Linked DNA regions of Homo sapiens: region 2 is linked to region 1. Evidence: fine-mapped expression QTL. Tissue or cell type: whole blood. Region 1 holds a variant in brackets; the other region holds the start of a gene. All regions are shown on one strand. Distances are from middle to middle.

Region 1 (2,901 bases):
TTACGCCATTGGTGACAAGCGACCCTCTTTGGGCAATATCTGTTACTTTCCCTCCCTCTAATAGTCATGTAAACATTGATGTTTAGTATTCAGTCTACTGCAGTTTATTGTGCAAGCAATTATAAGTTATTAACTTGGCATAATTTGTTGAATACCTAAGTATATAATATTGAAACTAAGGACTTGGCACCAAAATGTTTATGTACTTTGACTAATTTAACAGGAAAGTTGTTTACTTAGGATTGCTGGAAAGTTTTCTGCCATCAATTTCATAGACAGAAAAAATTTCTCTCCTTGGGAGCATATGGAAGGCTGATAAATTCAGATATATACTTGGCATCAATGTGAAATTTGAGAAGATAAAAAAATTTAGAATAGGAATTATAATTTTTTCCTTTTTTTTTTTTTTTTTTAACAAGAGTTTTGCTCTTGTTGCCCAGGCTGAAGTGTGGAATGCAATGACGCGATCTCGGCTCACTGCAACCTCTGCCTCCTGGGTTCAAGCGATTCTTCTGCCGCAGCCTACCGAGTAGCTGGGATTACAGGCATGTGCCACCATGCCCACCTAATTATTTTGTATTTTTAGTGGAGATGGGGTTTCTCCATTTTGGTCAGGCTGGTCTCGAACTCCCGACCTCAGGTGACCCACCTGCCTCAGCCTTTCAAAGTGCTGGGATTACAGGCGTGAGCCACCACGCCCAGTCAATTTTTTACTTTTAATCTGAAAATTACATTGAGGTTTTACTGTCTTGATACATATGACTGATTAGCCTGAGGTTTTTGATGAAAAACAAACTAAAAAACTTAAGAACCACCAGTCACAAATTTGTGGAGCTATCAGTCTTTTGTGGGGATATTAATCTTATAGAACTAGATTTACAAGTTATTCGGTCTTCACAACCCCAAATCTCTTGCCCTCTGTCAGTGATAGGACTTCAAATAATACTGAGAAAGTTATTCCTTTGCATCATGAACACTTTTAAGATAGTAGTACATACAGTTTCCTTCCTCTGCTGTCTAAGTAAGTCTGTGACAGTGGGGCACAGGTAGGCATGGAGTCAGTCCTGAAACGAGGCACAAAGAGAAGCTTCACCTGTCTTTTAGTTTTGCTGAGGGATCAATCACCCTGGTTACTTAGTGCTTAGATTATTAAAAAATAAAAATTCTTAGTGAATTGAGGCAATTCAGTTTACCTTTTATCACATTTTACTTTTTAAGTGTATGATGAAATTGCAAGATTTTGAGAGAGAAGAAAATGTGAGATTTCTAAACCTAAATTCAAATGAAAGATTAATCTTACAAGAGTTCTGCTTTCTGAAAGCATTGATTGAGGTGCCTGTAATCCCAGCTACTTGGGAGGTTGAGGGAAGAGAATCGCTTGAACCCAGAAGGCAGTGGTTGCAGTGAGTTGAGATTGCACCATTGCACTCCAGCCTGGGTTACAGCGAGACTCCATCTCAAAAAAAAAAAAAAAAAA[G/AG]ATTGTGTGGCTGGCATCTGTAGGAATGAGTGTATAAGGGGTGTATATATACAGGAGAATGGCCATCTGGGTCAGGGTTGGCATGCCTTTTCTGCAAAGGGCCAGGCTGAGAATACACTGGGCGTCACAGGCCCTGTGGTTTATGGCAGCAGCAACTCATCTCTGCTGTTGTAGTGTGAACGCAACTGTAGACAGTACACAAGCAAATGGGCATGGCAGTGTTCCTGTAAATCTTTATGTATCAAGATCAACAGCGAGATGGACCGTAGTTTGCCAGCCCCCCGATCTAGGTTTAGGGAAATTCATTGTCAGAATGAACAGTTTTGAGTGAAAAAACAGCTGCAGGATTAAAAAAAAAAATCCTCAGTAAGATTTTGTTTTTCTTTATTCTTAATAGGTAAACATTATACCAGTGATTGCCAAAGCAGATACGGTTTCTAAAACTGAATTACAGAAGTTTAAGATCAAGCTCATGAGTGAATTGGTCAGCAATGGCGTCCAGATATACCAGTTCCCAACGGATGATGACACTATTGCTAAGGTCAACGCTGCAATGAATGTGAGCTCCTGATTGAATGTTAATTCTGTTTTCCATGTGAAAATAAAACTGTAATTTGTGAGTAATATTGCTGCTAATACACTTTCACTTGTGTCTTCCAAAAAGACTTCAAACAAGGTGAATTTTCAAAAAGTCCAGTATGAGAAAATGTTTAGTTTTTTAAGTTGGAAAAGGTGTAAGGAGAATTTATTTTTAAGCATATTTTTCTTTCACTCTGCTTTCACCAAAATAAAGTGATAGATTTGTGAGACTGGGATATACCTTTTGTGCAGCCATATGTAATTGCCTTAGAAAGATGACACCTTCCTACCCTGTCTTTATAAACATGAGAAGACTTTACAGCCTCCCTTTGCATGCTGTAAAATCTTAAAATCTTTAAGGAGGTCTCTTAAAACTAGTATTTATGCTCCTTCTCTCTCATAGTGTCAAGTTACATTCATATAACTTTTAGTTTAGTACAATGGAAGGTGACTAAGTTCTTAATTTTACTTTCTTGAAGCTAACACATTTTTAAAACACCTGGTTGTGTTTTGTAGGATCATGGGTTTTGAAATCTGACAGGCTTGGTTGGCCATATGTCCATTGGAGTTACTAACCTCCCTGAGACTTAACATATCTACAAAGTTAGGTTAATACTGCCCACCTTAAGGGTTGTTGTGAGGGATAAATGATGTCACCTTTGTTAAGCGCCTAACAGTGACTTTCAATAATTGTTCATTCCATTTCTTCTATTTTCCTTTTCTGATTTTTCATACCACTTTTATATTAGTGTACCTAAACTAAATCTGTAAAAAAAAACTGACTAATGTAAATGAGGTGATCTTAATTCCTATATGTTAAATTGTCTTTACATCTAATTTTATTT
Region 2 (2,901 bases), 46 kb before region 1:
CAGGTCGTTCCTCCCCCACTCCCTCCTCCCCCCTGCCCTCCAGCGGCTGCTCTGGGTCCCTGAAAGAGGGTGTGGTGTGGACGATCTGGGTTCTGAATCGGATTTTGTTGAGTCTGGGTTTTATACGTCCACTAGAGCTGCCCGAGGCTTTGCGCCCTGGATCCTTGGCTTTGCCTCCGACCCACCCCTCAGCCGAGTGGTGATGGTGGTGATGGTCCCCTCCATCTTCTAGGGCGTGTGAGAGTTTGTAGGTGATGAGATGCGAGGGAAGCACCTTTGAAAGCCTCCAGCGCCCGCCGCCGCTACCCGCGGCGCTTTCCCCGTCACCCTCGTCCAGGGCTCCCACCAGGTTCTTGATCTCCTCGGCGATGCTCCGACTCAGGTACTGGGAGGCCTTTTTCCCACTGTAGTCCCTGATGTCCACATCGGCGTCGTAGGCCCCCACCAGCAGCTTCACCACCTCCACGTGGCCGTGCATGGCTGCCAAGTGCAGGGCGGTGTAACCCCCGCTCGTCCTGGCGTCGATGTTCACCGGCAGCTGGTGTTTGTTGGCGAAGTTGACTAGCATGGCCAGAAGCTCCTGCCTGCCGTGCTTGGCGGCCCAGTGCAGGCAAGTGAAGCCGGTAATGAAGTCCCGCTTGACCAGCAGGCCGGGCTCGCAGGTGAGCAAGCCCTCCAGGCTGTCCCACTTGCCATCGGAGGCAGAGAGCATCCACGCGTGCTCCAGGGGGTCCAGCGTCACGGAGCCTCCGCCGCTGCTCTCCTCCTCCGCGGACGACGAGGCCACCGATGCGCTGTCTGAGTCGCCCCCGCCTCTGCCGCGTCCTCCCCCGGAGGAGCTGCCCGGGCTGCTGCCCCCGGGACACACGCTCCTCTTCAGCTGCGGGGAGCTGCCCATCACCAGGTCACGGAGGTTCTGGCGGGCCGGCCTCTGTGCGGTAGCCCCCACAAGGGAGCTGCCCCTGTCCGCCTCCTCGCAGCCATGTGGCGGGAGCTCCAGGTCCTCGCTGGGCCCCGGGGCTGGAGTCCGCGGTAGGGGCTGCACGTCGCGCCGCGAGTTCTTCCTGCGAGCCCCGGCGCTCAGGGGCGGCCAGTGCGCGGGGGCGGGGGGCTCTCCCTCGCCCAGCTCGCGGCCCTGTCCAGGGAGCGACTCCGGGGCCGCCGCGTCGGGGAGCCGATCGCGCGCCTCGGGCCCGGCAGGGCCGTCGGGGGCCTCGGGCTCGGCGGTCACCTGGATTCGCGGCGGGTCCCCGGAGGGCTCGGACGGCCCTTCACAGAACCTCTTCTTGAGGTGCACGTACTTGGCGCCGTCGGCGGGATCGACGCGCACAGTGGCCACGGCGTTCACCAGCTCCTTGAAGTGCGCGCGGGCGCGGGCGCGCTGCTCCGGTTCGCCGCCTAGGGCGCCCCTGAAGTGCTGCACCAGCTCGGCGTGCAGGGCCCGGCCCCCGCGCTCCGCCAGGAAGCGCAGCACCGCCTCGGGGCCCAGCGCCGCCTCGGGGCCCCACTCTGCCGGCCCCTCCATCCTCGACCGCGCTGCTCCCCCGCCAGCGGGCGGCTCAGCGCGGTCCCATAGCGACGGGCTCCCAGCGGCCGGCTCCCGACGGCGGCGGAGTCTGGCGGGCTCAGCGGGCTGCCAGCCTACGCGTCTGAGGCCAGAGGACTCGGCCACCGCCTCACTGGGCCGCGCCCGGGCGGACACGCCCCCCGCACCCCCGCCCCGCGCCCACGCCACCAGGCCACGCCCACTTCCGCTCCCCGCTGTCTCGGCCACACCTACCTAGGGCGGCCTCGCCTCAAGGCCCGCCCACTTCCGGCCTCGCGAGGGCCGCAATCACTGCTCCGCAGTTCCCGCCTGCATTCCTCGCGCCGTCTTCCTGGAGTCCCAGCTCTCCTTCAGCCCGCCCCAACGCTGACGCTCAGTCCTCAGGCGTCGAGGGTAGCTCCTGTGAGGGGCTCGCTTGGCGCAGGCAAAACGCTCAGCGCGCACCACAGGGCGTCCGCCCCAACCCCGCCCCCGGAGGCCTCCAGCTCGGCCCCGCCCCTGTCCCTTCCCCGTCGCGGAGGCAGCCTAGCCTCGCGCCCCGCCCGTTGCTTCTGCCCTCCGGCCTTCCCGCCGCCGTCGCCGGGACCAGCCGCTCGGGGCCGGGCTGATACAGCCGCTTCACCGTGCCCCTGCCCGCGACCATGGCCTCCTCCGAGGTGGCGCGGCACCTGGTGAGTCCCGCCGACGCCGGGGCCCCAGCCCCGCGCTCCCCGGCCCCCGCGGGACTTCCCGCCCTCGACCCACCGGCCCCCTGGTCCGGCCCGGGATTGTGACCCGCGCCCCCTCCGGCCCCGCCCGCCCAGTGCTCCCCGGCTTCCGCGGCGGCCGGGCGCCTGGGGCGGGAGAGGAGCCTCTGCGGAGCCTGGGCGCGGCCGGACCCCGGTTCGCGGGGCGCGGCGCCAGCGTCGGGACGGTGGGAGAGTTCTTGAACGACTTCCCGGTCTTTGCCAAAAGTTACATCCACAGCGGTGTTTGTGGGTCTCTTACGGCTATAACGGAGTTGAAGGCGCAGTGCGGACTGATTGAATAGCGGTCATCTTTTGCAGCCGTGAGCACTTCCGAGCCTCCCTGCCGCCGGGAGAAAGCCCGGCTCCCCTGGCTTTTCAAAAGCTCTCCCGTTTTATCCGATGGTGTGGTCGTCCAAGTTTTCCTCCATTGGGATTTTAAACCGTTTTTTTCCCGCCTTGACTCTTTTGTACTCTAAAAGAACGCGTTTGTTCACTGTTTTGAACCTTTCCAGTTACTTTTGTAGATTTATCTCGCTTGTTAGTAAGCCAGCGGTTTTCCAAGTGTGGTTACAACTATTTTCGTTAATAGTACCAAGGTCGTGTACATCGAGTTTTCCAAAGGCTACA

What was found.
Region 2: SOWAHC starts here. The variant in region 1 is fine-mapped to the expression of SOWAHC in whole blood (INTERVAL, PIP 0.98).

What each region holds. Positions count from the first base shown.
Region 1 is chr2:109,566,950-109,569,850 of GRCh38, reverse strand. SEPTIN10 (septin 10) reads left to right here. Exons shown (of 11, transcript NM_144710.5): 6 at 1,875-2,036. It also overlaps a transcript of RANBP2 not described here. Among named protein-coding and RNA genes, the nearest start is that of SEPTIN10, 46 kb to the left of the region's middle. The variant G/AG (reference allele first, on the strand shown) is at 1,478.
Region 2 is chr2:109,613,114-109,616,014 of GRCh38, reverse strand. It overlaps SOWAHC (sosondowah ankyrin repeat domain family member C), which reads right to left and starts at 1,651. Exons shown (of 1, transcript NM_023016.4): 1 at 1-1,651. The coding sequence starts at 1,525. It overlaps SEPTIN10 (septin 10), which reads left to right and starts at 2,049. Exons shown (of 11, transcript NM_144710.5): 1 at 2,049-2,217. The coding sequence starts at 2,188. It also overlaps a transcript of RANBP2 not described here. RefSeq lists silencers at 1,598-1,767, 2,028-2,277, 2,308-2,397 and an enhancer at 2,250-2,901.